Regions from separate parts of the Homo sapiens genome. Here all the other regions are linked to region 2. Evidence: fine-mapped QTL for protein levels in blood plasma. Region 2 holds a variant in brackets. A gene starts in each other region. All regions are shown on their forward strands.

The links. PIP is the chance, under the fine-mapping model, that this variant and not a neighbour inherited with it causes the effect. Protein levels are from antibody-based Olink assays in UK Biobank. Linkage for the fine-mapping came from a reference panel and not from the study's own genotypes, which makes the PIPs less certain.
Region 1: it holds the start of CLEC4A, and the variant in region 2 is fine-mapped to the plasma level of the CLEC4A protein (UK Biobank, PIP above 0.99).
Region 3: it holds the start of TLR3, and the variant in region 2 is fine-mapped to the plasma level of the TLR3 protein (UK Biobank, PIP above 0.99).
Region 4: it holds the start of CD300E, and the variant in region 2 is fine-mapped to the plasma level of the CD300E protein (UK Biobank, PIP above 0.99).
Region 5: it holds the start of PSCA, and the variant in region 2 is fine-mapped to the plasma level of the PSCA protein (UK Biobank, PIP above 0.99).
Region 6: it holds the start of LYPD8, and the variant in region 2 is fine-mapped to the plasma level of the LYPD8 protein (UK Biobank, PIP above 0.99).
Region 7: it holds the start of BST1, and the variant in region 2 is fine-mapped to the plasma level of the BST1 protein (UK Biobank, PIP above 0.99).

Annotation. Positions count from the first base shown.
Region 1 is chr12:8,121,462-8,125,811 of GRCh38, forward strand. CLEC4A (C-type lectin domain family 4 member A) reads left to right here and starts at 2,156. Exons shown (of 6, transcript NM_016184.4): 1 at 2,156-2,499; 2 at 4,100-4,216. The coding sequence starts at 2,418. RefSeq lists an enhancer at 2,026-2,075.
Region 2 is chr19:43,646,459-43,650,808 of GRCh38, forward strand. PLAUR (plasminogen activator, urokinase receptor) reads right to left here. Exons shown (of 7, transcript NM_002659.4): 7 at 2,121-2,685. The coding sequence ends at 2,432. Among named protein-coding and RNA genes, the nearest start is that of CADM4, 8.8 kb to the left of the region's middle. The variant A/G (reference allele first, on the strand shown) is at 2,490.
Region 3 is chr4:186,066,629-186,070,978 of GRCh38, forward strand. TLR3 (toll like receptor 3) reads left to right here and starts at 2,528. Exons shown (of 5, transcript NM_003265.3): 1 at 2,528-2,620.
Region 4 is chr17:74,621,948-74,626,297 of GRCh38, forward strand. CD300E (CD300e molecule) reads right to left here and starts at 1,791. Exons shown (of 4, transcript NM_181449.3): 1 at 1,635-1,791. The coding sequence starts at 1,674. It overlaps LOC101928343 (a long non-coding RNA gene), which reads left to right. Exons shown (of 4, transcript NR_158152.1): 4 at 3,580-4,049.
Region 5 is chr8:142,678,714-142,683,063 of GRCh38, forward strand. It overlaps PSCA (prostate stem cell antigen), which reads left to right and starts at 1,782. Exons shown (of 3, transcript NM_005672.5): 1 at 1,782-1,850; 2 at 2,614-2,721; 3 at 3,208-4,012. The coding sequence starts at 1,826. The coding sequence ends at 3,419. RefSeq lists an enhancer at 2,527-3,173.
Region 6 is chr1:248,755,123-248,759,308 of GRCh38, forward strand. It overlaps LYPD8 (LY6/PLAUR domain containing 8), which reads right to left and starts at 637. Exons shown (of 7, transcript NM_001085474.2): 1 at 583-637; 2 at 117-264.
Region 7 is chr4:15,701,023-15,705,372 of GRCh38, forward strand. BST1 (bone marrow stromal cell antigen 1) reads left to right here and starts at 2,043. Exons shown (of 9, transcript NM_004334.3): 1 at 2,043-2,310. The coding sequence starts at 2,123. RefSeq lists a silencer at 1,982-2,061.

The DNA of each region.
Region 1 (4,350 bases), not on the chromosome of region 2:
TATGGTGAGGTGGCTGGGAGAGCAGCAGTGGCCTGGCACAGGGGGAGAGCTTTAGCAGGGTGAGAAGGGTGACTATGCAGGGTATTGGCTTGACAGTGGTTCTGGAGCCCAAGCAGAGTGAGAAGAACATCCCTTAGGGGTGGGAAAGTGTCCTGGCATGGGGAACCAGAGCGAGGAGATGTCCACTCCTGGCAATGGCCCAGTGCAGGGTGTCAGAGGATAAGATTGAGGAGGGTGTCCATAGTAGGGGTAGCCTGATGTGAGAGGTCAGAGTCTGAGAGGTAAAGAAGGCATCTATGTGGTGGGATAGTCAGGTGCAGTGAGTTGGAGTGCAAGCAGGGTGAGGAGGGCATCCATGTATGAGGTTACCTTCTATAGGGAGTCAGAGTCGCAAATGGCTGAGCAGAGTACTCTAGGGCCAGCCTGGTATGTATGTCAGCATGTGGGAGAGGTGAGGAGGGCACCCATGCCTAGTGTTGGCCCAGTTGGGGTTGGGACTCAGCACTTAAGCAGGATGAGGAGAGAGAGCATCCTTGCAGAGGGTAGACCTGGTGTGGTTTCAGAGACCAAGCATGATAAGGAGGGTGTCCATGTGGTGGGGTAGCCCAGTGAGGGAACTCAGATCCTAAGTAGGGTAAGATGGACATTATTGCTGGGGGATGGAGGACCTGCATGGAGTGTCAGAGCCCAAGCAGGATGAAGAAAGCTTCTATGCAGAGGGAGGACTTGGTGTGGGTTTCAGAAACTTAGCAGGATAAGGAGGTGGTCCATGTGGTAGGATAGCCCGGTGAGGAAATCAGACCCCTCCAGGGTGAGGAGGGCTTCCACCCATAGGGTGACCTTGTGTGGAGCATTAGAACCTAAGGGGGTCTAAGTGGTGACTAGGGGACCAGCATCAGGAATCAGAGTGCAAGCAGAGTGAGGAGGGCTTTCCTGCAGAGGAATGGCCTAGCACAGGGAGTCAGAGCCTTGGCAGGGTGAGGGGGATGTTTGTTGGGGGATGTTCATGGGGGTGGGGAGTGGGCTGGCCCTTTGCCGGCACTCTCAGAGTGAGGAGGGAGGGCATCCGCGCAGGGGATGGTGGCTTGGACTGGGGAGTCAGAGCCCAACTAGGAAGAGAGGGACATCTTAGCAGGTGGGAGATTGACGACATCCAGGAGATTGATCAAATAAGGAATAAGTGAAAGACAATGAAAGCAGGTTTCTTAGTGTCACAGAAAGGAGTTAGGAATGTGGGAAGGGAGAAAACTAGAATGAAACTTGTGGTGTTAGATTGGAATTAGAGGAATTAGTGTGAACTCATGGTGTTCAATATATTTAGATATAGAAATAATATAGAAATATAGACGTGTGTGTTTGTGTGTGTGTGCATGCATGTATGCATGTGTGTTATGCAGGAGAAGGAATCAGCTGGGGGAGATTAAAAGGAGGATCATTTGCGGAGAGTTGAGGGCAGAGAATCCAGGTGTGAGCTGGGAGCATGTCTATGGAGAGATTCCACATGAAGGATTTAATATTTGGAGTGTTTTCTTCTAGGCCTTTGGAAAAAGTCATATTTAGTACTTTGTTTAAGTTTATCCCCTTCTATACTGTGATTCTATATAATTCTCCTAACTGTTAAAAAATAGTCATATATATTGGAGGTGATGTGGCGATTAAAAGGTTAGGGAAGCATGGAATAAAGGCTGGCCTTCCCTCTCCTCCAACATCCAGTAAAGGGAGCTGCTTTCTGGAGATTCTAGCAAGATGAATGCAGACTTTTGATAGAGTTAGTTACCAACAAGGAAACACAGAGAGCATGGAGGAACAGCTTCAGAAGACATGGGGTTTAAACTTTGCCATCCCCACCATGCTACAGGAAACTAATTCGTGAAGGTGGGGAGGCTGATATGTGAGTTTTGTGTCAATGATACTCTTAGAATGTGGTACTAACAAGTTGCCTGATCAGTCAAAATTGATGAGATGAATGCAACATAAGTCTATGTTCAGGATGTTTGGTCAAAAGTAATTACATTTGTGTGTGGAAGCACAGAAATTGTATTTTTTACTGGTGAAAAACGCAGTTCTCCAGAAAGACTCTAAGTGCTTGGTTCTTCTTTTATTTTTCTTCCTCTTTCCGCAACCCTTTGAGTTCCCACTTTTATTGCATTTGCTTGCATTTGTTTCAAGGCTGTGATTCTCACTATACTGGTCCTGAGGAAAGGGCTTCTGTGAACTGCGGTTTTTAGTTTTTATTGTGGTTCTTAGTTCTCATGAGACCCCTCTTGAGGATATGTGCCTATCTGGTGCCTCTGCTCTCCACTAGTTGAGTGAAAGGAAGGAGGTAATTTACCACCATGTTTGGTTCCTGTTTATAAGATGTTTTAAGAAAGATCTGAAACAGATTTTCTGAAGAAAGCAGAAGCTCTCTTCCCATTATGACTTCGGAAATCACTTATGCTGAAGTGAGGTTCAAAAATGAATTCAAGTCCTCAGGCATCAACACAGCCTCTTCTGCAGGTAAAGATCATTTTCTAGGGGTCAGAGTGAATGACGAGGTGAAGGATGAGGAGAGGGTTTATGAATAAGGCATAGGTGTTTTCAGTTGCTGGTTGTCTGATTGAGTATGTCTGGGAAACACAAGAGTCCCAGAAGATTGAGTGGCCTGCAGATACGCATTACGGGGTGTACATTTGTATTGTGGAGAAGAAAAGATTTTGTGCCACTCTCTTCAGCCTCCACTCTGCTTACTGAAACAGAGGTGAGAGAAATCCACTCCAGTTCTGAGCTAAGGCGAGTGCTCTGATGCCCCTGTGTTTTCTGAGGCTGAGTGGGGCTGGGGTTAAGAGATTGAGTACAGCTTCTGAAACCATCAATCCAGATGCAGGGGGTCCTGATGAATTTGTGAGATTTGTTTTTTGATCAGTTAGAGGGAAAGAGTTTGGGTGGACAGTGGTGAGGGTATATTTGTTGGTAATGGATGGAAATGTAACAAAAGGCCTTTGCAAATGAAAGACTAGAAAGTCTACAAAGAAAGTCTCTTAAATCTCCAGGAAACTTTTTCTGAAATCAGAGAACCTATTGCGTGTTGCATCTCTGAGACAGACTCTGTTACGTTTGGGAGTAGATGCAAGGTGATTTGGGTGTCATGTGTGATATCTCAAGTATAGAGCAAAAGAGAGAAAAGAATGTATATAGAGTACAAGAAACTATGGGGGAAGGGGTCAGGACTATAGTTACGCTTTCTAAAATACCTCTGTGAAGGTGTGGAGAGCACTTAGGGAAATTTTTTCTCCTTAAAAACTTTATATAATTTCTTTATTACACAAGTATTAATGTTCATTGTAGAAAAAATTAACCAGAGGTACACAGATATTTGAATTATAATTACTCTTATCATCTAGAGAAAATCATAATTTGCAATTTAGTGAATATCCTTCCACATACAAATACATATAATGTGCATATGTATTTTACTAAAAATGTAATCATATTATATAATACTGAATTTTTTTCCCCCATCATTTGACAAAATATCATAACTCGAAGAAAGTGATTCCTAACCATGAGATGGTAACTAAAAAGACTGACTTTATTCTAAACATGTGATGAGGAATGATTATAAAGATTTATTTGCTATAGCATTATTTAAAGTTGGAAACCATTATTTAAATATATGATGAAATACTATGCAACCATAATAAGGAGTGTTAAAGAAGAAAATATAATGGTATGAAAAATGTTCATGATATAGTGTAAAGGAAAATAATAGGTCAGAAATCAGTATTTATGGTATGTCAATCGTGGGAAAATTTGCATATGTGTATATATACATTCAAAAAATTGCTAGAAAGATATATACCAAAATATTATGGTATATTATAAGTTATATGGCATAACAGTTATCCTCAATTGTAGGAATTCGTACTTTTATGTATTTTTTAAAGTTTCTACAGTGAATATTATTATATCCTTTCTATTCCTATTCTCATGTGATTTCAAATGTCATACCGTTAGTAACTGTGTGTCATCCAAGAAAAGAGAGAGAAAGAGGAGGAGGAAGAAGAGGAAGTAAAGACCAAACTTATTACTGATAAAACTAATTTGGCTTCTTCTTCAGCTTCCAAGGAGAGGACTGCCCCTCACAAAAGTAATACCGGATTCCCCAAGCTGCTTTGTGCCTCACTGTTGATATTTTTCCTGCTATTGGCAATCTCATTCTTTATTGCTTTTGTCAGTAAGTATGCCAACTGAACCAATAAGCAATATCTGCTGTCCATGAACAGAGGGTATCCTTTAAAAACTGACTTTTGAAAATGAGCTTATCCAGAAATCTGAAATGAAATTTTCTCTGGGGAGACATAATTCATG
Region 2 (4,350 bases):
ATACATGAGTAGCTTGGGCTTCCTCACAGCATGGTGGTCTCAGGGCAGTAGTACTTTTACATGGCAACCAGCTTCCCCAGAGTGAGCGTTCTAAGATTCAGAAAGTGAAAAATGAAAGTTTCTTAAAACTTGGTTCCAGAACATAGCACAGCAAAACTTCCACCACATTCTACTGGTCAAAGCAGTCACAGAGTCACTCATATTCAAGAGGCAGAAGTACAGACCTCACTTCTTTAAGCCACTACAGTGACAGGTGGTGATATGTCATTAGAGAAAGCCCTAAACAAGAACCTTGTCCCTCACCTGCCCCCAAATACCATGGAAGATGTCTTTTTTTTTTTTTTTTTTTTTTTGGGGATAGTCTCACTGTGTCATGCAGTGGTGTGATCTTGGCTCACTACAACCTCCTCCTCCTGGGTTCAAGCGATTCTCCTGCCTCAGCCTTCCGAGTAGCTGGAGTTACAGGCACCCACCACCTTACCCGGTTAATTTTTGTAATTTTAGTAGAGACGGGGTTTTGCCAAATTGGCCAGGCTGGTCTCAAACTCCTGCCTCAAGTGATCTGCCCACCTCGGCCTCCCAAAGTGCTGGGATTACAGGCGTGAACCACCACAGCCAGCCGAAGATATCTTATTTTTTCTTCATTAGCCACAAGATTTGATGGGGAATGTAATTTTTGTCTCCATGGGTTGCCTTAGCAAATGATGAGAAGAACATGAATTTTTCAATATTGTGCTCCTAGAGTGCCATTGAAATGGTAGTTCTGTCTCTTTTTCTGACAGTCCTGAGGCATCCCGGGAAATAGAGCCCAGCCTTTATCCCCGGTCCCCAGCACATCAGGGGAAGTGCACTCCTGTCCTTATTCCTCACTGCAGTGCATGCAGGGAGTTCTGGCCATCAGGTTATCTTCTATCCGTCTCCTTTCCCAAAGCATGCTGGGAAATGTGGGGATGTCTCCTTAGAACAACAAAATAGTTGCAACCTTTGAAGTTTAGGAGAAGACTAGAAGGTTAGTGTTCAGTGTGTGATCTGGAAGCTTGCATTTGTAAGAATTAAAGAAAGAGGAGGCCAGGCACGGTGGCTCATGCCTGTAATCCTAGCACTTTGGGAGGCCAAGGTGGGCAGATCACCTGAGGTTGGGAGTTTGAGACCAGCCTGAACAACATGGAGAAACCCTGTCTCTACTAAAAATACAAAATTAGCCGGGTGTGGTGGTGCATGCCTGTAATCCCAGCTACTTGGGAGGCTGAGGCAGGAGAATCCCTTGAACTAGGAGGTGGAGGTTGTGGTGAGCTGAGATTGTGTCATTGCACTCCAGCCTGGGCAACAAGAGTGAAACTCCATCTCAAAAAAAGAAAAGAAAAGAAAAGAAAAAGGAAAAGGAAAGAAACATGAAATGTGGCTTGACGGTGAAGGACAGGTTTATTTTAGAGAAAACCAACCTGAGGGGGGCTTTTGGCTGAGTTAGGTTAGAGAGCCCTTTTTTTTTTTTTTTTTTACAGACTAAGGATATTTAAGAGTTTTGGAAGGGGGTGCTTATCTAGGTTCGGAATGTTTTCATGTGAGGAAAAGTTTATTGTGGGGTTGGAAAGTCTCTGGTCGGAAGGGAGGCTATCTGGGGGTTGGCATGTTTCTGGTCAGAGAGGGGTTTATCTTAGGGTTGGAATGTTTCTGGTTATGCTGATGGTAGCCATTAGGCTGATGTTTTGGGGCTGGATTTAGCTGATTTTTTTTTGAGACAGAGTCTTGCTCTGTCACCCAGGCTGGAGTGCAGTGGTGCAATCTCGGCTCACTGCAAGCTCCACCTCCCGGATTGACGCCATTCTCCTGCCTCAGCCTCCCGAATAGCTGGGACTACAGGCACCCGCCACCACGTCCGGATTTAGCCGATTTTTAATCAAGAGGAACTAAGAATGGTGGTGTTTGTTCAAGATGGCAGTGCTCCTGCTCTGTCAGCATTTGGAGTCCAGAAATAGATGTGGAGGCAGCCCCCAGGAGGACTTCCAACCTAGGCAGGGGCCTCAAACATGACCCCTGATTCCAGGAGCCTGTGAAAAGGTGTCCCCCACCATTTATCCTCCCAAAGATAGACACTACAAAGAAGGGCATACCTGGCCTTGTCCACTGGTACAAAATCTTTATGTAAGTATAAAATAAATAATATGAATATTAATTAATAACAACAACACAACAGCGGCAACAATATTAATAATAACAAGAGCTCTCCCATTGGCCCACGGCCTTCCTCCAGCTTTTCTCTTCTGCTTCACACAACTTTGTGAGATAGCTGTTTTCATAGCTGGGAAAACTGAGGCCCAGAGAGGTCGGCACACTGGCCTGAGGTCACACAGCAAGTCTGTAGGGCTGGGAGCCGAGGGAAGGGCAAAGGGGTCCCCCGGATCCAGCCAGGGCAGAGAGGGGGATTTCAGGTTTAGGTCCAGAGGAGAGTGCCTCCCCACAGTCTGGCAGTCATTAGCAGGGTGATGGTG[A/G]GGCTGAGATGGGCAGGGCCAGGCTGAGGAGCAGCCCCACTGCGGTACTGGACATCCAGGTCTGGGTGGTTACAGCCACTTTTAGTACAGCAGGAGACATCAATGTGGTTCATGCTGAAGGCGTCACCCAGGTGGGCATGTTGGCACATTGAGGCGGTTGCACAGCCTCTTACCATATAGCTTTGGTTTTTCGGTTCTGAGGAAAGAGAAGACGGAGTGAGACTTCCAGCTCCTGGGCCCAGGACTGGAATTCTCCAGTAGGTGACCTGCCACCTTGCAGTGGGTGCCACCTTCACTACCACCTAGAGAAAGCAGCAGTTCTCAGGGCCAGGTGTGGTGGCTCATGCCTGTAATCTCAACACCTTGGGAAGCCAAGGAGAGAGGATAGCTTGAGCCCAGGAGTTCCAGACCAGCCTGGACAACATAGCAAAACTCTGTTTCTACAAACATAAAAAAGAAAAAAACAGCTGTAGTCCCAGCTACTTGGGAGGCTGAGATGAGAGGATCACTTGAGCTCAGGAGATGGAGGCTGTGGTGAGTTATGATCACGCCACTGCACTCCAGCCTGGGTAACAGAGTGAGACCCTGTTTCAAAAAACAAATAAAAAGAAAGAAAGGAAGGAAGGGAGGGAGGGAGGGAGGGAAGAAGGAAGGGAGGAAGGGAAGAAGGGAAAGAAAAGAAAGAAAGAGAGAGAGAGGGAGGAAGGAAGGAAGGAGAAGGGAAAGAAGGAAGGAAGGGAGGAAGGAAGGAAGAAAGAAAGAAAGAAAGGGAAAGAGAGACAGAGAAAGAAAAGGAAAGAAAAAAAAAGAAAGAAAGGAAGCGAGCAGCGGTTCTTAAAGTGTGGCTCAGGGACCCCAGAGACCCTTTCAGGAGATCTGTGATTTCACATGGCTTTTTCACTCTCATAAGTGTACAATGGGCTTTTCCAAAAACTCCAGGACATGTGATATTGCAAGAGACTGAAAGCAGAAGCTTCCATGAGGACCCAGCTGTCTTCTATTAAGCTGGACATTAAAGAGATGTGCAACACAGCAAAATAATGCCAGTTTTCTCATTACGCTTTTTTTTTGTTTTTTTTTTTGAGATGGAGTCTCACTCTGTCACCCAGGCTGGAGTGCAGTGGCACGATCTCGGCTCACTGCAACCTCTGCCTCCCGGGTTCAAGCAATTCTTCTGCCTCAGCCTCCCAAGTAGCTGGGACTACAGGCGCGACCACCATGCCCAGCTAATTTTTGTATTTCTAGTAGAGACGGGGTTTCACCATATTGGCCAGGCTGGTCTCGAACTCCTGACCTTGTGATCTGCCCGCCTTGGCCTCCCAAAGTGCTGGTATTACAGGCGTGAGCCACCGCGCCTGGCTGGTTTTTTTTTTGTTGTTTCTTTGTTTGTTTTTTTAAGACAGGGTCTCGCTCTGTTGCCCAGGCCGCAGTGCAGTGGTGCAATCTCCGTTCACTGCAACCTCCACCTCCCAGGCTCAAGTGACCCTCCCACCTCAGCCTCCCAAGCAGCTGGGACTACAGGCATGCACCACCATGCCCAGCTAACTTTTGTATTTTCTGTAGAGACAGGATCTTGCTATGTTGCCCAGGCTGGTCTCAAATCCCTAGGCTTAAGTGACCCGCCCACCTTGGCCTCCCAAAGTATTGGGATTATAGGCATGAGCCACCATGCCTGGCTATCATTACATTTTTTCTTTGGAAACTATACTTATTTTTCATTAAAATGTTATTTATCTTAATGTGTAATGAGTTTTTATTGTTATAAGATGAATTCATAAATAAATCTTTAAAGATTTCTCAGTTTTGGCTGGGCACGGTGGCTCACATCTGTAATCCCAGCACTTTGGGAGGCCGAGGCAGG
Region 3 (4,350 bases), not on the chromosome of region 2:
CTGGGTGACAGAGCAAGACTCTGTCTCAGGAAAAAAAAGATTAAAAAAAATAAAAACGGCTGTTTTATTAAGAATTGTTATTAGGAACGGGCAGAGAAGAACAGTGTCTGTGTAGTTCAGCATGTGAGTGGTAATTTGCTAATTATATCTGGCTTGTCACTCCGGTCTCTGTAACTTGCTGTGTTTTGTCAAGTGATTCTTCCAGAAATTTTGTGTATATTATCTTACTAAACTCTCATTAAAGAGGCCCCTCAAATGGAAGAAGGGAACTTAGAGTTTTTAGAATGTGAATAAATTTAAGGGACTTTGGCTTCTAGAATTCTGTAGATCTCTGTTTTGCTGGGAATATACAGCTTCCCATTATTCTGAGATTGGCTGATCTGTAATGCTGTGAAATATCAGTGTTTACTAAATTTGTTATTTTACATTTATGGGCATACATTTTTTTTTAATTCTCTCTCTCTCTTTTTTTGAGACAGGGTCTCCCTCTGTTACCCAGGCTGGAGTGCAGTGGCGCACTCATGACTCAATGCAAACTTGAATTTGCCTGGACTCAAGTGATCCTCCCACCTCAGCCTCCCAAGTAGCTGAGACTATAGGCATGCACCAACATGCCCAGCTAATTTTTGTAATTTTTGTAGAGATGGAGTTTTACCACGTTGCCCAGGTTGGTCTTGAACTCCTAGGCTCAAGCAATCTCCTAAAGTGTTGGGATTACAGGCATGATCCACTGCTCCCAGCCTTAATTCTTTTAAAAAGGGGAAAAATGAGGTTTTTCACTATTGCTCCAATCACCATCATAGCTAAATAAGTTAATGCACATAGTTAAGAAATGTACAGTAGAGAGAAAACAATCTGTGTTGTATTTAGAAACTAGCAAGAATTAAGGACTAATAATATCTGAATATGAACTGGTATTAAGCCCAAACTACTGCATCAGGAGACCATCAATAAAATTTATTTATCGAGAGCCATTCATTAGTCAACCAAAGTCGTGGGAAATTTAATCTGTATAAGGAGTCATAAGGCATAAGGGATAGGTATGAAGGATTGTTGAGATGATGTGTTTTATTTCGCTAATAATGCATATGACACCATTCCAATTTTTTTAAATTTAAAACAACAATCATTTATTTGCTTGCTTCTCAAGCCTGGGTAATCGTGTTTGGCAATGAGACCTTGTTGCATGCTTGCTAATATCCCACTGGTCAAAGCTAGTCAAATGGCCAAGCCTAGAGTCAGCGTGGGAGAAGGCCACACAAGGGTTTGAATTCTGAGGACGAGTCTCTTTCATTGAAGGCCAAAGAAACAGTCTACCTCAGAGGGTTGCTGGGGAGCTATAATGCAAAGAATAAACCTCACCCTGCCTTCAAGGCGCTCACAGAGAAGAAATCTTTTGAATATTAGTGAAGTTTTCCTGGACATCCCAATGGATAGATGTGAGGGACAGTCACGTACTCAGGACATCTGTTTGCTTATGGTGTTATGTTACAGATGTCACAAATGAAAATCAGAGACATGTAGCCCTGAGCCCAGTAACTATAAAGCGGTCTAGCTGAAGCTGGAGCCCACAAGAGGGCACTTTGCACCATGATGCACGCTTGTTTCTTGCCATCAGCTCTGCAATGAGTTCAAGCTAATGCCATGTCCCAGCCGTCCAGTTGTTTTATGACTTGTGTGATTGAAGCATATGGTGGCTTGTGGCATGTTCTTAGGCAAACCACTCACCTCCCTAGGTTTCGTTTTCCTAATTTCTCAAACAAGGGAGTTAGATTAGGTGGTCTATAGTTCCTTCCAATTGTGATATTTCACTATATAACAATATAGTTATAATAGATCATAGCACATCTGTAATGAAAAAAAGTGAGTTCATTTCTTAACAAGTACATTTACTTAACTAGTTGGAGTCATTAAAGCAAATTAAGAACGAAATTCTTAGTTAATCTGAACTTTTCTGGGCATACTGATCTGTTCCCTAACGCGTCTGACCGTGGAAAAGTGGATCAGCAGGAGTGGGACTGGCTCTCAGCTTTGCCATGTTTGGCTCTTTCTCTGCTGTGAAACTCAGTTTCTTCCTGGATCAAGAGGTTAATTTCTGCCGGTGTTATTTTACAGTGTTGCAAAGAGATAAAAGCCAGACGAAAGAAGGGAAAGTACTTCAGCTTTGATTAGGGATTTTTTTTTCTGTCCCTGTGACCATACACTACTCAATTCTGACAGCTTCGCATGAGTCTAGCAGAAAATTGAGGGATTCACTGTTATTCCTTAACTTGCAGAGGTCCAGACCCGCCCACATCAAATGGTGAGGTCCCCACTTTCAACTTTAGCTGTTGCTAAATCTGTGACCCTTTCAATGAAATCCAAGGATCTCAGCTTAAAAAAAGTTAAAATAAAATAAAAACTAGGTGTTTTTCAGAGGCGGTTTGAAACGCCTCTCTGAGGTTGTCAGAGATTGTTTTTGTTTTCTCCCTTTGCCCTTCTTGGAATGCACCAAACATAAAAGCATTTTTTTTCAAGCTTTACTTTCACTTTCGAGAGTGCCGTCTATTTGCCACACACTTCCCTGATGAAATGTCTGGATTTGGACTAAAGAAAAAAGGAAAGGCTAGCAGTCATCCAAGTAAGTGAAGGTGTTCATTTCACGTTCTTACTGGGCAGGGTCTCTCTTGCTGAGTAGAGTTTGCTAGCAGAATGCATGTGGTTTTAGCCTTCTTTGGTCTTTCTTTGATCTGGTGCTTGAAATCTAGTCAGAATTATTCAGGAAGGAAAGTGGAAGAAAAGGGATATGATATGGGCATGGGAGAAGGGTATAACTCAGAACACAAGTAATAGCACCAATATCTAGTTAATGTGATAATGTATTTATGCAGTATTTAATTTTTTTCTCTGTAGCATTCTGTACCTGGAAAAAACACATTAGGGAAGCTATGGAAATCATTTTGCAACAGTCTTTTTAGCAAATCACATCTTTGCCTTAAAGAAACAAAACTCCAAGAGGTTAAAAGAGCGTATCCCCTTTTGTTAGTTTTATTGGCTGGAGGGGAGACAGGAGCTGGCATTGTATGACAATGTCTTAGATAGGAGAGAACATTCAGGTATGCCTAGGAGTAAGTAAATGGCTTTCTTTCACCTAATGAAGGATAATGGAAGAAGTGGAGAAGTGGAAAGTTGTTAAGGTGTATGGGAAGATCAGAAACTGGTATCGGCAATTGTGGGGTACTCGGGTAAAAATGGAGTTGGCTTCAGCAAGTTGATTCCCAGGTTTACAGATGATTACGTGCTGGTATGTGTCTTCATATGGGCGTGCCTGTGTATGAACCTACTACAAAGGTTGCAAAGTTTACAAATCAAACTATGGATAGTGGTTAACTCCAGGTAGTCTGCCTCCAGACCCCATGTCCTAACCATCAGGCAATATTGTCTCTCACTTGGACAAAGAATGTGAATTCCATGTGCCCTCACAAAATATTTCCAAAATTCTAAGGCTGAGTGAGTCTCTTTTTAATTTTTTTTCATTTTCTTTATTTCTGCTAGATCTCATTCAACAGCAACGTTTTCTTCACTCTCATTTCATCCTTTAACTGCATTTTTGCTTGTTTTACTGAAGCATGTCCTAGAATAACCTTTTCATACAGATCGTATGGCTATAAACTTACTGAATTTTTGCATATCTCAAAATACTTATACCTTTTTATTTAGTTATTCAGATGGATGTGAAATTTCCCTATCTTATTTTATTTTATTTTATTTCATTTTATTTCATTTATCGATTTAGAGACAAGGTCTCGCTGTGTTGCCCAGGCTGAAGTACAGTGGCATGATCGTGGCTCACTGCAGCCTTGACCTCCCTGGCTCAAGCAATTCTCACACCTCAGTGTCACGAGTAGCTGGGACCACAGGTGTGAACCACTATGGCCAGCTAATTTAAAAAAAAATTTTGGTGGAGATGAGGTTTCCCTGTGTTGCCCAGGCTGGTCCCAAACTCCTAGGCTCAAGGGATCCTCCAGCCTCAGCTTCCTAAAGTGATGGGATTACAGGCATGAGCCACAGGTAATTTTCTTGGCCTGGTCAAAGGTAATTTTCTTGTTTTTTAGAGGTAAGGTCTTGCTCTGTTGCCCAGGCTGGAGTGCAGTGGTGTGATCATGATTCATTGCAGCCTTAACCTCCTGGGCTCAAGCGATCCTCCTGCCTCAGCCTCCCAAGTAGCTGGAACTACAGGCTTGTGCCACCACACTTGGCTACTTTCTAAAATATTTTTGTAGATACGGGGTCTCACTATGTTGCCCAGGCTGGTGTTGAGCTCCTGATCTCCTTCTGCCTACACCTTCTAAAGTGCCGGGATTGTGGGGA
Region 4 (4,350 bases), not on the chromosome of region 2:
GTTTTGCTCTTTTTAAATTTTTTACTTTTCTTTTTTTGTAGAAATGGGGTCTTGCTATGTTGCCCAGGCTGATCTCAAACTCCTGGGCTGAAGCATTCCTCCTGCTTTGACCTCCCAAAGCACTGGGATTACAGGTGTGAGCCACCTCACTCAACCAACGTTTGCTTATTTTGTATTTGAATTTGCTTCCTTCCTCTTTGTCATTTCCCCTCCCTGCTAGAATTGCCCTTTCCATCTCTCTTTCCCAGTTAAGATTTTCAGAGGGACCTGCGCAGGTCACATTGCGAGTCTGAGGATGGGGAATGAGATAGGGGTGGAAAGAGAGATGGAAAGGGCAAAGAAAAAGGAAGCAAATTCAAATACAAAATGAGCAAACATTGGTTGAGTGCAGTGGCTCATGCCTGTAATCCCAGTGCTTTGGGAGGTCAAGAGAGGAGGATTGCTTGAGCCCACGAGTTTGGGTCCATGTCACCTACCTGGTCTTCTTCCTTTAAATCGCTGTCATTTTCACTCACCCTTCTAGAAAGAATCTTGTCATTACATTGGGCAATTTCTATGTTTTGTGAGGGAACTCAACCATAAAATTCATTCTGCAAACATGAAGAATGTCCTCTAATTTTTAGCCTAAATTTATTTCCCCAGAGACAAATGTGTTTTCCTGCAGTTTTGTATTTTGAATGTCTATTAATAAGAGTTTCTCTTCTGAAGTCCAACCTTTGCAGGACAGTTTCATTTACTTGTTTACACCACACCTTGTTCCGGGAAGGATTTAAGGTAGATGTTGAGGATGGCATTTTTTTTTTTCAGACAGGATCTCAACTCTATCACCCAGGCCAGACTGCTGCAGTGGTGCAATCTCGGCTCACTGCAACCTCCGCCTCCCAAGTTCAAGCGATCCTCCTGCCTCAGCCTCCCTAGTAGCTGGGACTACAGGCATGCATCACCACGCCCAGCTAATTTTTGTATTTTTAGTAGAGACAGGGTTTCACCATGTTGGCCAGGCTGGTCTCAAACTCCTGACCTCAGGTGATCCACCCACCTTGGCCTCCCAAAGTGATGGGATTACAGGCGTGAGCCACCACGCCCAGCCCATTAATTATTTCTCACAAACCATTCCAACCCCTTTACACTAAGCTTCGTCAAAACAGAACTATTGTTAATTCTTGAACTCTCCATGGTCTTTAATGTCCTCACACTTGCACATAAGCTATTCCTTTCCCACTCAGCCAACTCATTCATCCTGCAGGATGGACTTCCAATGAAGCCTCAGTGACATCTCCCACCCTTCCAAGAGCAAAGTGAGGGGTTCCTGTTGCATACTCTCATCACCACATGAATGAGTCTCTACAACAGTAATTTCCACATTGTATTGTAGTTAGTTGACTCCCTCAGTTCAGAAGTTACTCTTAATTACAGCACCCAGAACAGTCCTGGCACATATCTGGTGCTCAGTAAGTGTTTGTAGGATCCGTGGATGAATGATTGAATGTATAGAAGGATGCACAGGTGAATGAACGGATGTATCTTTCCCTTTTCTGTGGACACTTCACCTCTGGTTTGAACCCAGGACAGCTCTTCTACCTACTGTCCTGCCCCCTGCAAAACCAAGTCCCCAAAGCCACAGCCCCACTCACCTGAGAGGCAGAGAAGGAGTAGAGCTGGGAGCAGCCACATGTTCCTGTCTCCTTGGCTTCCGTCCTCAGCAAATCTAGGTCCCAGCTGGAATCCAAGTATATGTAACGGAGCCTGGGTCATCCACTTTCTACTTGTCCAAGTTTCCTTTGTGTTCTCACTCATCTATTTCCTCTTTTGCCTTTTAAAGAATGCTTCCTAATTTTAAGCCTTACTTAGCAGAAGAGAAAGGGTGGCAAGAGACGTTTCTGAGAATGGACCAAGCACAAACAGGAAAATCTGTTGGCCTTCATTTAATGTGAACGTAATGTTTGAGTCACCCCCTGAGATTTCATGACTCGGAATTTCATGAAAGTCAGTCCCAGTTTACGAAACCTCTCCAACAGAGAAAACTCTGTTCCCTGCCTCTTTCACTCTTCTTCCTATCTGGGATTACTTCATCGATCTAAGGAGCTTCCCTTCTCTATGGCTGCCTACTTTTGAATCATAAAACACCCTCTACTTAAGGAGCTGTGGTGATCACTCCCCATGTCTTTCTCAACCGTTATCTCCATGCGGATGACTTCACACCTCTTCCTCTAACCCAATATCCCAATATCTCTCCTGGGCTCCAGATCCTACTTTCTAACTTCCTATAGGGAAGCTCCACCTGGTTATACACTGTTAACCTAGTTCAGTATATGGGTCATGGTCAACAGCATAGATTCTGAAGTCACACAAACTCAAATCTCATCTCCATCATTTATTAATCATCTGACCTTGGGCATGTTGCCAAATCACTCTCCTCCTCAGTCTCCTCATCTGTAAAATAGAGTACTCATGACAATTCTTTCTCAAAGGGTTGCCACAGGAAATAAATGAGTTAATGTAAGTAAAGTGCTTGATACAGTGCCTGGAACATAGTAACTGCCCAGTTAATATTAAATACCTTTAGAATAGTCCTGGACCATTGAAATAGCTTCTCATCTGGTCCCTCCACTAGCTATACATTCTCTCTAATCCAACTTGCACATCAGAAGATACTCTTCTCTAAGACATAGCTATCTGAAAATATAATTTCTTTCCTTCTCTTTCCCCAGAGATACCCATCTTTGATACCCACAGCCTCTAATCTTTACTATCTTTTAGAACTCTACTGGATCATCTGATATTTCAAACTTTTGTTGTAAGAGCACAACTTCTTATCTTTTCTGTACCACCATATCTGATGAAGTATTATATAGCCAGGCATGGTGGCACGTGCCTGTAATCCCAGCTACTTGGGAGGCCAAGGCAGGAGAATCACTTGAACCCAGGAGGTGGAGGTTGCAAAGCAATGAGCCAAGATCACACCATTGCACTCCAGCCTGGCAACAGAGAGAGACTCCATCTAAAAAAAAAAGAAAGAAAGATGAAAGAAAGAAAGAAAAAGAAAGAAAGAAAGATAGATAGATTATATATAGAATAGAGCCCTGGATGGAACAATAAAACACCAGGACCCTGGTCCCATGTGTGACATGAGCCACACACTTGAGGGATCCAGAATGAGCAGAGCTGACAGTAGCCACAACATTGTGTCTTAGTCCATTTTCTTCTACTATAACAGAATACTACAGGCTAGCTAATTTATAAAGAACAAAAGTTGGCAGGTGCAGTGGCTCATGCCTGTAATCCTAGCACTTTGGGAGGCCGAGGCACGTAGATCACTTGAGGTCAGGAGTTTCAGACCAGCCTGGCCAACATAGCAAAACCCTGTCTCTAACAAAAATACAGAAATTAGCCCTGCATGGTGGTATGAGCCTGTAGTCCCAGCTACTCAGGAGGCTGAGGTGGGAGAATTGCTTGAACCCAGGAGACGAAAGTTGCAGTGAGCCAAGATCACGCCACTGCATTTCAGCCTGGGCGACAGAGAGAAACTCTGTCTCAAATAATAATAATAAAAAAGAACAAATTTGTTCACCTTCCTAGCTTTCTGAAGATGAGAAGTCCAAGAGCATCGTAGTGGCATCTGACAAGCGTCATTCCATGGCAGAAGACAAGACAGCAGGCAAGCCTCCTAGACAGAGAGAAAAAGGGGACTGAACTCAGCCTCTCAGGAAACCACTCTCACAATAACTAACCCACTCCGGAGATAACAGCATTAATCCACTCGGAGGACTGAGCTCTCATGGCCTAATCACCTCTTAAAGACCTCACATCCCAATGCCATTACATTGACAGTTAAGTTTCAACACGAGTTTCTGAGGGAACATTCAAACCATAGCAACCCTTGTGCCATTTATTCAGCAGAGACAACAGTTGCAGGCTTCAGTTCTTTCCACCAAGAGGACCAAACAAATCTTCAGCCTTCTTGGTTCTGCTTTTATAATGTTTTCTTCTGGTTCCTTTTTTGAAAATCTTATCCCTACAGTTGTTTATAAAATAAAAGAAATGGGAATAAGCAAAGGCATGTGTTGATGGTTGAAAAACTATAAACTCACCATGTCTAATATAGGCACATTTCATTATAATCCAATTAGAAAATCCAAACTCCGACCACCTAGTAAGACCGAGTTGACACAGAAGCTATCATCTGGTTCCAAACTGAAGTCAAATCCAATAAAAGGAAATTCCAGGTATTAGAAATGTAAAGGGAACTAAAAGCCAGGTCTGTGAGCAGGATCTGATACCAAGAGGCTAATGGGGACCAGTCAAAATGAATTTGGGCCTTAGGAGGAGAGGGGCTGCTGTTTAAATAGC
Region 5 (4,350 bases), not on the chromosome of region 2:
CACTGGCAGCAGAGCTTGGGCCTGCTCTAGAGGGTCCTAGCCACTGCTACCACCACCCAGCTGGCTGGCAGGAGAGCCTGGGCCTGCTCTAGAGGACCATAGCTACTGCCACCAACACTCAGCCGGCTGGCAGGAGAGCCTAGGCCTGTACTAGAGGACCATAGCTACTGCCACCAACACTTAGCCAGCTGGCATGAGAGCCTGGGCCTGCTCTAGAGGGCCATAGCCGCTGCCACCACCCACCGCCCAGCTGACTGGCATGAGAGCTTGGGCCTGCTCTAGAGGGCCATAGCCACTGCCACCACCGCCCAGCGGGCTGGGCCTGCTCTAGAGGGCCATAGCCACTGCCACCACCTCCCAGCTGACTGGCAGGAGAGCTGGCCTGAACTTGCCTCTTCCACTCTCTCATCTCCTGCCTGTGGGAGCTGGACCAGCCTCCCAGGACATGGAGCAGGACGGAGAGGGGATCTGGGGCAAACAGAGGCCATACAGCCCTGGGCCTAGCCGCTGCCTCCTGCTACTGCAGAGGCTGCTAAAAGCTGCACTTCCCCGACTCGTTTGCAGCTAAAGTTCCAAGCTGAGGGGGTCACTCAAGGTCCTGAGGGTAAAGCACCTAGCCCAGGGCTCAGCCCACACTGAATGCCCCATAAATGAAGGCCCGTCCAACAGGGTCTCCTCCCCAGGGAGGCTGTCCCCTGTGTCAACAAGAGCCAAACTCTGTAAAATATTTGAAGACATTTATTCTGAGCCAAATATGAGGGACCATGGCCTGTGACACAGCCCCCAGGAGACCCTGAGAACATGTGCCCAAGGTGGTCAGTGCACAGCTTGATGGTACCCATTTTAGGGAGACATGAGACATCAATCAAATATATTGAAGATATACATTGGTTTAGTCCAGAAAGGTGGGCAGCTGGAACTGGGGGCTTCCAGGTTATAGGTGGATTTAAACATCTTCTGGTTGGCAATCGCTTGCAAGAGTTATCAATAGAAAGGAATGTCTGGGTTATACGGGGTTGTGGAGACCAAGGCTTTATCATCAGATGAAGCCTCCAGGTAGCAGGCTTCCGAGACAATAGATGGTAAATGTTTCTCATCAGACTGAAGGCCTGTGTTGATGTTAACGCTGGCTGTTCCAGAGTTCTGAAGGGAGGAGGGATAATGAGGCTATCCAACCCTTTGCTGTCATGGCCTGAACCAGTTTTTCAGGTTAACTTCGGAAAGCCCTTGCCAAGAGGAGGGTTCCACTCAGATGGCTGGGGGGCCTTAGAATGTTACTTTTGGTTTATACCGGAACAGCCCCTGCCCCTGTCCTTTGCAGCACCTGCTAATGATCTGTCAGTGACGCTGTGACCAAGGCTCATCACCCTGCGGGCCGTGGGCCCCAGAGGGCGGCACAGCTTCTATAGGAGCACAGGGCCCAGGGAGGTGCCCTCATCCTTGGCTGGAAGGCCGAGGCCTGGAGGAGTCTGGAGAAAGGGTCTCCCTTGTCTGGCCTTGCACTGTGAGGTGGGGGAGGTGGGAGAGGCATAATCTGGGTCTTGAGGACGTTTCAGCCCTCAGCCCGGGGTGGCTGAGATATGGCCCTGGGTAGGCTCTGTCCTCCAGAGGTGGAAAGAAGGACAAAGGGAGAGGGAGGTGCAGGTCGCTCAGGGAGGAGACTCGGACCTGCCCAGCCCCGGGGCCCTCACTGGCTCCAGGAAACCCGCTGGTGTTGACTGTGGGCAGTCCAGCCTCTCCCCATTTGAGGCCATATAAAGTCACCTGAGGCCCTCTCCACCACAGCCCACCAGTGACCACGAAGGCTGTGCTGCTTGCCCTGTTGATGGCAGGCTTGGCCCTGCAGCCAGGTGAGGCCTTGGCTGGCCCCCAGCAGGGAAGGGAGCAGGGGTGAGCCGGGGAGGCCAGAGGGATACCTGCAGGGCACACGGAGAGGAGGGGAAGGAAGGAGGAAGGGAGAGGAAGGGGGTGAGGCTCTTGCCCTAGCCTCCGCTCCTCCAGGGAAGCTCTTGGCACGACCAGGCAGCGACCTGTTCCCTGCCGTCCCCTGTGACCGGGGCTTGCAGGGGCAGCACGGAGTCACTCTCCTTCACCACCGTGGGGCAGGGCCTGGCTCCTAGGGGGCAGGTAGACAGACTGACGGATGGATGGGCAGAGATGCTGATGAGGAGCTGGGAGACATGGGACAGGAAGCCTCAGGCTAAGAAGTGGTTTTTGGGGCACAAGGGGGAGGTGCTGGGGGTGTCCTGCGAGGACCCGGGGGTCTACATCCGGCCCAGTCCCAGCACTGCAGCTTCCAAGGGTCCCAGGGAGCTGCTCTGCTTGAGGTGGGACCCTCCCGACCCAGGGTCCCGGGTTCAGTCACCCCCACAGCCGCAGCTTCCTCTTCTGAAACACACGGTCACAAAAGCAGCCACCGAGGGACTAAACAGGGCAACATTTCGGAGGCACTGAGCAGGGGGCCGTGAAGATGGGGAGGAGACATTGAGGGTGACAAGAGGGCGCCGAGGACTTCCTCAGGCCACCGCCATGGAGGCCCACCTGCCTGGGAGCCCCCATTCCTGGGGAGTGCTATGGGGCAGCCTCTGAGGCCCCTCCCACTCCACCCCACAGGCACTGCCCTGCTGTGCTACTCCTGCAAAGCCCAGGTGAGCAACGAGGACTGCCTGCAGGTGGAGAACTGCACCCAGCTGGGGGAGCAGTGCTGGACCGCGCGCATCCGTGAGTGGGGGGACGACAGCCGCCAGGCCTAGGTCTCTGCCACTGAACTATTAATCTTTCTGGCCATCTGTCCGCATCTGTGTGCTGTTTTCCTTCCACCTGTCCCCGACCCGTCCCGCACCTGCACCCCCAACAATCACCCAGCATCTGTCCCTCCAGCCATCCTCCTCCATCTGCCACTCCTCCACTCATCTGTCCCTCCCCATCCTCCATCTTCCACTCCTCCACCCATCTGTCCCTCCCCATCCCTGAGCTCACTTACTCACTCACCCCATTTCTGACGCTCAGCGGGTGGTCCATCTGCCTCGGACATCTGGATAGGGCTGAGACCAGGGCCGAGACCAGGCCCTCGCACTGCTTGCAATCCTGAGGCCAGCCCAGGGGGACTCTAGAGCATTAGGCAGGGTGGGACAGGAGGAGGCCTGGGGCAGGTCAGGCAGGTGAGCACACAGGGCAGCCCCATCCCCGGATCCCGCTGCTCCCCAGGCGCAGTTGGCCTCCTGACCGTCATCAGCAAAGGCTGCAGCTTGAACTGCGTGGATGACTCACAGGACTACTACGTGGGCAAGAAGAACATCACGTGCTGTGACACCGACTTGTGCAACGCCAGCGGGGCCCATGCCCTGCAGCCGGCTGCTGCCATCCTTGCGCTGCTCCCTGCACTCGGCCTGCTGCTCTGGGGACCCGGCCAGCTCTAGGCTCTGGGGGGCCCCGCTGCAGCCCACACTGGGTGTGGTGCCCCAGGCCTCTGTGCCACTCCTCACACACCCGGCCCAGTGGGAGCCTGTCCTGGTTCCTGAGGCACATCCTAACGCAAGTCTGACCATGTATGTCTGCGCCCCTGTCCCCCACCCTGACCCTCCCATGGCCCTCTCCAGGACTCCCACCCGGCAGATCGGCTCTATTGACACAGATCCGCCTGCAGATGGCCCCTCCAACCCTCTCTGCTGCTGTTTCCATGGCCCAGCATTCTCCACCCTTAACCCTGTGCTCAGGCACCTCTTCCCCCAGGAAGCCTTCCCTGCCCACCCCATCTATGACTTGAGCCAGGTCTGGTCCGTGGTGTCCCCCGCACCCAGCAGGGGACAGGCACTCAGGAGGGCCCGGTAAAGGCTGAGATGAAGTGGACTGAGTAGAACTGGAGGACAGGAGTCGACGTGAGTTCCTGGGAGTCTCCAGAGATGGGGCCTGGAGGCCTGGAGGAAGGGGCCAGGCCTCACATTCGTGGGGCTCCCTGAATGGCAGCCTCAGCACAGCGTAGGCCCTTAATAAACACCTGTTGGATAAGCCAGAGAGACCCTCTGTCCTTGCACACCCCAGGCGGGCACCGGATCCAGGGCTGTGTCTGGACCAGGGCCCTGGTCACATGGGCTGCAGCCTCCGCCCTAACAGGAGCAAAGCTTGGCCCCTGAAAGGAGGACGTCCCTGCAGAGGGTGGGAGGGCAGTTCCCAGGACTTGCACTTGCTGTGCTGCCTGGAGCATGTGGCCAGACCTCTCTGAGCCTTGCGACTCATCTATGACCCCTCCTTGCTGGGAGGATGGACCCAGAAAGTTCACAGGAAGGAGAGCGTTCCGGGGGGAGGGACTGCTACCATTCAAGCTCCTACCCATCCCCTTGGCCTGATTTG
Region 6 (4,186 bases), not on the chromosome of region 2:
CACCTAGCAGAGAAACAGAGCCTGGGAGTGACCCCATAGCAGGACCCAGGGCCGTGCTCAACACCTCTGTGGGTAAGAGGGACCAGTGAAGCTGGGGCTCAAGGCAGGGCCCCCACCTGGGACATGAGAAGAAGTGGCATCTTAGGCCGTTTCACTAGGTACTTCCCACTGGCAAAGTTTTATTGCGGAATCTTTTCGACAGCCTGGCAGGGTCCTGCTATAATTGCTGTCATCTTCCACAGAGAAAGCTGGAGCCTAGAGAGGCTGTGAGGACACAAAACCACACAGAATGAAGAATGTCACACACAGAATGATGCACAGAACACGCACACACTACACACAAACCACACACACAGTAGCAGATGGCAAAACAACAAGAAAACTACATCCCCAGCCCACATCCTCCCTGAACTCCAGACTTCCCTCTCCTGAGCATACGACTGCCTAGGGCAATGCCAAAGGAGCAAGAGCCGCAAGAATGTCCTGGACTTGGCCGGGGAAGGACCTGAGCTGGTCCTGAATGCCCTTCCTGCGGTTTCAGCTTCTCCCAGGGCTCAGGCCCCGGCCTCGCAGTCCTCTCACCTTCTGGATCTGGCCTGGTGACTGTCCTACAGAAGGTGGTTCCCAGTAGAGGCTTAGGGCTGGTATGGGAGAGGCCTTATATAGCAGGTGGCTGTAAAATCAAAAAGCACAGCTGTCTTCTGGGGTGGGACCTCTGGGTCAGACAGGCTAAGGCTTCTGGCTCTCAGACTGTGCCCTGCCCAATAGAGCTACAGGCTGCCCAACCCTTTGGCATCTGTGCAGCTCGTGCCCTCTCTGAGACCTCTAGGAATTGGGAACAACTTTGGTCAAGGCCTGCCTTTGGCAAAATGTAAACAGGAGTAAGGTATCTTCCAGCATTGTCTGTGGCCTTCTAAGTCAATTCCATGACCTGCTAATGACAAGCACCTAACAACCTGCTAACAGTCACCATGATTAGCCCATTTATAGATGAGAAAACCAAAGCACAGAAAGAGAGCCATAAGAGATATGCTCATGGGCACACAGCCGGGGCACAGTCAGAACTCAGAGCTCCGAATCAGACTATGTGGGGTCTGTGCAACTCAGGAAAGGGCCTCAGTTTCCCACAGGCAAGTGTCTTAACCTTGTTAGATTTGAGGGTCCTCCAACCAAGATGAGTGTAAACTCACTGTGCAGCCTCATAGTGTGGTAGAGGGACCATGACGTGAAGCCCCTGCCTGCAGTGTGCTCTGCACACTGGGTGAGAGCCCACAGCAGCCATCGAGAGAGTCTTTCTGGCCAAGTGATCTGAGCAGCTACTGGTAACAGCCCAGGTCAGGTCAACTGAGGCCTCTCTGTATTAGTCAGGTTCTCTGTCCTCTAGAGAAGGTGAGTTTATATATGTATGAAGGGGAGTTCATTAAGGAGTATTGACTCACATGATCACAGGGTGAAGTCCCACAATAGGCTGTCTGTGACCTGAAGACCAAGGAAGCCAGTCTGAGTCCCAAAACCTCAAAAGTGCAGCCTTCAGTCTGTGGCTGATGGCCTGAGAGCCCCTGGCAAACCACTGGTGTAGGCCCAAGAGTCCCAAAGCCGAAGAACTTGGAGTCCGATGTTTGAGGGAAGGAAGCATCCAGCATGGGAGAAAGATGGAGACTGGGAGACTCAGCCAGTCTGGTCCTTCCTCGTTCTGCTGCCTGCTTTTATCCTAGCTGTGTTGGCAGTTGATTAGATGATGTCCACCCAGATGTAGGCTGGGAGGCTAGGCCAGTCTAGCCTTTTGACATTTTTCTGCCTGCTTTATATTCTAGCAGAGCTGGCAGCTGATCAGATGGTGCCCACCCAGACTGAGGGTGGCTCTGCCTCTGCCAGTCCACGGACTCGAGTGTTAATCTCCTTTGGCAACACCCTCACAGACACATCCAGGAACAATACTTTGCAATACTTTTCAATCCAATCATGTTGACACTCAATATTAACCCTCACACTCTCCCAGTCTCCTCACACTGTGCCATGGGTGCTCCTGGTTTTGAGTGTGGACTTGAGTTATCTTCCCTCCTCATCTTTCCACTGTGCTGACACTTTATACACACACGGTGGGGAGTGGGAGGAGCCCACTCAGCCGAGGATGCAGAGGTTGAGGGGCACACATCATACCAGTATCCCCCAGCCTGCATTTAAACCTTGCAGTTCCCTGCTCTTGAAAATACCCCTTGGGGATGGCTACGCTACCTGTGTCTCAGCTCTCTCTTCCTTCCCCAAACTCATGCATTCATTCAACAAACATTTTTTGAGCACCCTCCCTGTCTTAGGCCTACTGTAGGAAACCGGGAGGTATTTGTGAGCAAAAAGACAAAGACCTTTGCCCTCCTGGAGTGTAGTCTAGAGAGGACTACAGACAACATAAATTAAAGTGGTAAATAAGCAAATCACAGGGAAAGTCAGAATGTGGTGACTGCTCTGGCAAAAAGACAAAGAGTAGGATAAGTCATCAACCATGCTAGGGGGTGAGCAGGTGCAGGCTTCCACTTTCAATGAGGAGGTTGTAGTAGGTCTCATGGAGAAGACAAAATCTGAGTTATTTTTATAAGCAGAGACTCTGGCCATCTCTTATTCTCTCCTCTCCTCACCATCTGCCTTCAGGCTGCTTATCACAGCATTTTCCTAAAAAAAAAAAAAAGCAGCTTCCTCCCTAACAGAACCATATTGTTTCCCAGCACACATTAGTCAGTCACCTGGCAGGGCACAACAAGAGAAGTGGCACAGTAATATCCAATGGGGTGTGTGTGGGCTTGCGGGTTTCAGGAATGTGGCCTCCCTGAGCCACCGATGGAGGATCCAAAGAGCTCATGAACACTGCCTCTGAGATAACAGCTCTGGTGTCAGGCTGAGTACTGGCATGAGAAAATCGGGCTGATCAATGTTAATTCCTCTCAGAAGGCACCAGATACTCAGGCAAATGGACCCAAAGCGACCACAAAGATCTGAGTCTGAATCCAGACTTTGTCCCTCACATCACATAAGTTACTTATTAACCGCACTTGTTGGGCCAGAGCTCTTTGTCTTTAAAATGGAATCATCAGGCCCTGAAGAAATGCCTCCTGATGATTTATTTACTCCTGGAATCATCACCCCATTCCTCTGTGTTTTTCCAAGGCCATCTATCTATCAATAATGTCCTGAGGACGTCTAACCATGTGGGAATTATTATTAATAGCACGTATGATTTTAACTGAGCCATTTATCAGTAAGGACACTGAAGACAATGGAAGCCCCCTGAACTAGGCTGCGCAGTCTATACGGCTGCTCACAGCAGTCCTGGGTTCATCCTTTTGAAGCCCCGGCAGTGCGCCAAGGGTACCCCCAGCTGCCTTGACAGATAAGGAAACAGGCCCAGGGAGGCCTTCCCTATAGGCCTTCAGACGCCTGGGCCAGCAATCTTTCCATTTCAACATGGCTCAGGTGGGACGCAGCCTCCACCCGCAGGATTGGAGACATCGACTTGACTCCACTCCTCCCTCTCCCAGAGGTTCACCTCTCTGTCATTAATGTGGGGTCCAAGGACCTGAATCAGTCACAGGGAATTATGAAAAAGCACCTCTCTAAAGCCGACTCCTCCTGACTAGCAAAGAAGTCCAGAGACCCAGGAGAAGCTAAGTCGCAACAAGCAGCCCAACTTTTAAACTAAGAAGCCCTGGGCACACCGTAGGCACCCTAGTTCCATCATCTTCTTAGAAGGGGACAAGGTTGGCTGTCCCTACAGCCTGCTGAGCTGAGGCAAACCTGGAGCTCAGCTGAGTCCCAGTGAGTCATCCGGTGGTAAATCTGGAACCACTTTAGGAAACGGCCTTTTCCCAAAGCTTCCCTTGATGACCAGCAAAGCTTGGAGGTGAGTTTCCAGGGGAGCCTACCCCATTTTGGAATAAGCATGTGGAGGTGTGTAGGGTCAGGTCAGGGAAGCTGGGGCAGGAATTATATCCAACAGGAGTCTAAGCCAAAGACTCAGCAAAAGGATCAAGAGCATCCACCCCTGACCCGCCTTCTCTCTGTGTTTGCTTCTGGGAGCCTTTCATTGACTAGCTCATTCCTCCCGCTTGGAGATGTGAGAATAGGCTAAAAATAATGAATTATTGCCCCCAACATTCCTGCCCCCCAGTCACCTTGCAGAGGAAATGAGCATATC
Region 7 (4,350 bases), not on the chromosome of region 2:
AGGCTTATCAGAAACTCAAAAGAAGGCAACCATTTGTCTCTCACCTACCTGAGACCTGGAAGCCCCCTCCGTGCTTCGAGTTGTCCCCGCCTCTCTGGACAGAACCAATGTACTTCTTACATATATTGATTGATATCTCATGTCTCCCTAAAATGTATAAAACCAAGCTGTGCCCTGACCACCTTGGGTACATGTCGTCAGGACTTCCTGAGGTTGTGTCATGGACACGTGTCCTCAACCTTGCTAAAATAAACTTTCTAAATTAATTGAGACCTGTCTCAAAATTTGCGGGTTCACACATGTTATTTAGAAATATGGAAGTAAACACAGGAACAAAACTTGAAAGAATTAAAAATGCTTTCCTCTGGAAAGTGGATTTAACTTAAGGAGGAACTGAACAGGAGAATGCGGGTTTTGGTTACAGAAAAAAAGAGATTCAAATAAAACAGTAGAGAACACCTGTTCTGTCCTCCCTTGTGTTTATCAAGTGCTTGCCAGGCACTCAAAGTTCATTGCTGTCATTATTGTAAGAATTGAGGACTTGGGCCTCCACGTGGTATTCTATTAATACTGGCTCTTTTTTTTTTTTTTTTTGAGACGGAGTCTCACTCTGTTGCCCAGACTGGAGTGCAGTGGCCCGATCTCGGCTCACTGCGAGCTCTGCCTCCTGGGTTCACGCCGTTTTCCCGCCTCAGCCTCCCGAGTAGCTGGGACAACAGGCGCCCGCCACCGCGCCTGGCTAATCTTTTGTATTTTTAGTAGAGACGGGGTTTCACCGTGTTAGCAAGGATGGTCTCGATCTCTTGACCTCGTGATCCACCCGCCTCGGCCTCCCAAAGTGCTGGGATTACAGGTGTGAGCCACCGCGCCCGGCCAATCCTGGCTCTCTTAAACTGAACATCTCCAGGATTTTGCATCTATCAGGAAGGGATATTGTGACCTCTGACAAGTTACAGTCGGCGGTAGGTATCCATGGAGAATTGGTTCCAGGAACCTCCTGGATACCAAAATCCACAGATGCTCAAGGCCCTTATATTAAATGGTGTAGTATACAGTATTTGCACATCCTCTTCTATAATTCACGTCATCTCCAGATTCCTTGTAATATCAAGTACTATGTAATTGTTACATAAGTAGTTGTTACATTGGATTATTTAGGGAATGATGACAAGGAAAAAAAAGTCCGTACATGTTCCGTACAGATGCAAGCATTCTTTTTTTCCTCAAATGTTTCTCATCCGTGGTTAGCTGAATTTGGATGATGAATCCGCAAATCTGGAGGGCCGAACATGCTTAACTTCCCTGAGTTTATCCATTGCTAAAGCGAGAGAAATTACAAACTTAGCTAGGAAGGGTGTTGCGGAAAGTAATTAATATTATACTTGCAAAGTGCTTGGCACGTTGTTGTGGTTATTATTTCCTGAAAACAAACAAACACCACTTATTGGTTGGTGTGAAAGAGGGCATCTGTCAAAGTTGTCGTCCTTTGGAGCCAGAAAAGTATTTCTTCTGATGATGACTGACCTCTCCTCACCTCTCCTTCAACCTTGCGGCTTCTTTGGGGCTCCCTCCCCGTGGACAGCGGTCAAGATTAGCCTGGGCCACAGTGCACTGGTCCTGTCCTGGGTGATGTTCCAAGCTCACTCTTTTTTAATTTTATTTATTTATTAATTTTTTTTTTAGACAGAGTCTCACTCTGTCGCCCAGGGCTGGAGTGCAGTGGTGCAATCACTGCTCGCTGCAGCCTCGATCCCCTGGGGTCAAGCCTCCTCACATCTCACCTCGCAGGTAGCTGAGACTACAGATGCGCACCACCAGGACCAGCTAAGTTTTGTATTTTTTTGTAGAGAGGAGGTTTCTCACCTGTATGTTACTCAGGTTTGTCTCGAACTCCTATACTCAAGCGATCCGCCCGTCTAGGCCTCTCAAAGTGCTGGGATTACAGGCATGAGCCGCCGCGCCCCGCCCCACGCTCAGTCTTGAAATTGTCTGGAACGGGAAACGGCAAACAGCGAGATATCCGAGCGAGAGTCCCGCCCTGCATCAGTTTGCGGAACCGCCTTGGTAGAAGGAGAGAAGGGGAGTGGAGGAAGCACGGGACTGGAGGGACCAAAGTTCCCCGATGGCGGCCCAGGGGTGCGCGGCATCGCGGCTGCTCCAGCTGCTGCTGCAGCTTCTGCTTCTACTGTTGCTGCTGGCGGCGGGCGGGGCGCGCGCGCGGTGGCGCGGGGAGGGCACCAGCGCACACTTGCGGGACATCTTCCTGGGCCGCTGCGCCGAGTACCGCGCACTGCTGAGTCCCGAGCAGCGGTGAGGCAGTCGGCCGGGTGGAAGGGGAGCCGGAAAGAGGCAACGGTGGGGAGGGCCTGGGGAGGGGAAAACTGGCGCTAAAGTTCGGGGTGAGGGGGCAATGAGAGAGGCCTTGAGGGGAGAGGTGAGTGTGGAGACAGCGATGGTCCTGAACGATGGGGGCGAGTGAGGAGGGGGCTGTGAAGTGTGTCTGCAGGTGAGGGGTGCGCTGTGCGGGGTCTAGAGATGAGTGTGTGTGTGTGCGCGCACACACACACTGTAGAGGTGAGGGGTGTGTGCGTGTGTTCTAGAGGTGAGGGGGGTGTGTGTGTGCGCGCGCTCTAGAGGTGGGAGGTGTGTGTGTGCTCTAGAGGTGGATGTGTGTGTGTGTGCTCTAGAGGTGGGGGTGTGTGTGTGTGTGTGTGCTCTAGAGGTGAGGGGTGTGTGTGTGTGTTCTAAAGGTGAGATGTGTGTGTGTGTTCTAGAGGTAAGGGGTGTGTGTGTTCCAGAGGTGAGGTGTCTGTATGTGTGTTCTAGAGGTGAGGGGTGTGTGCATGTGTGTTCTAGAGGTGAAGGGGGTGTGTGTGCGTGCGCTCTAGAGGTGAGGGGTGTGTGTATTCTAGAGGTGAGGGGTGTGTGTGTTCTAGAAGTGAGGGGTGTGTGTGTTCTGGAGGTGAGATGTGTGTGTGTGTGTTCTAGAGGTGAGGGGTGCGTGCATGTGTTCTAGAGGTGTGTGTGTATCTGTGTTCTAGAGGTGAGGGGTGTGTGTGTGTAGTCTAGAGGTGACAGGTGTGTGTGTGTGGTCTATAGGTGAGGGATGTGTGTGTGGTCTAGAGGTGAGGGATGTGTGTGTGGTCTAGAGGTGAGGGGTGTGTGTGTTCTAGAGGTGAGGGGGTGTATGTGTATTCTAGAGCTGAGGAGAGTGTGTGTTCTAGAGATGAGGTGTGTATGTGTGTTCTAGAGGTGAGGGGTGTGTGTGTGTTCTGGAGTTGAGGGGTGTGTGTTCTAGAGGTGAGATGTGTGTGTTCTAGAGATGATGGGTGTGTGTGTTCTAGAAGTGAGAGGTGTGTGTGTTCTAGAGGTAAGGGATGTGTGTGTGTGTGTGTTCTAGAGGTGAGTTGTGTGTGTGTTCTAGAGGTGAGATGTGTGTGTGTTTGTTCTAGAGGTGAGGGGTGTGTGTGTGTAGTCTAGAGGTGACAGGTGTGTGTGTGTGGTCTATAGGTGAGGGATGTGTGTGTGGTCTAGAGGTGAGGGATGTGTGTGTGGTCTAGAGGTGAGAGGTGTGTGTGAGTGTGAAGGAGGGTGGAGAGGTATCCCTCTAGAAGTGAGGGTGGGGTAGAGGTGAACTGGGTAACAGCCCATTGCCACCCAGCAGATGTTTAGTCTGAATACTCAGAACCCAGAATGTGATCTCAGGTTGGAATTCCTTGAGTCCAGTCCTTCCAGAATTCAAATTTCAGATCCCCTAAATCTGGAGGATTTCTGAAGTTTGGGTCTTTCTTGCCAGTGCTGCATTTCTTACTGATTTTTGTTCCTTCTGTGGCCCCCCTTTTCTTATGTTTGTGATGTCTTTCTTGTGCTGATCATTTTTATTGTCGCACATTTCAGGCAAATAAGAAACAGCAGAGAACCACCTGTGTTACACACCACCCAGTATGAGAAACAAAGTTACAAATGCTATGGGAAATATTTTTTGAAAACTAGCATGGACCTCAAGAGGGGCTTGCACTGGAGGGTGCACCTGCTTTGCCAGAGGTGGAAGCCTTTTGCAGCATTGGGCCTCCCTCCTAACACTACACATCCTGCTGGCTGGCCTGGCCTCACCTGGTCCCCGAGCTCCACACTGGAACTGGACTATGAGACTGGCCCCACCGTTAGGTCTAAATGAAGAGGCACCTGCTGTATAGTTGACTGAATTTGTCACCTCCTGCTCGGTGCCATTTCTGCTTGTCTCCGTGAGCCTGGGGCAAGGCTGTATTCCTTAGCTCTGAGAAATCTGTGCAGTGCCTTCAGAGAGACAATTCCAGTGTCAGATTTCTGAATCTGTCACCTAAGCCATGA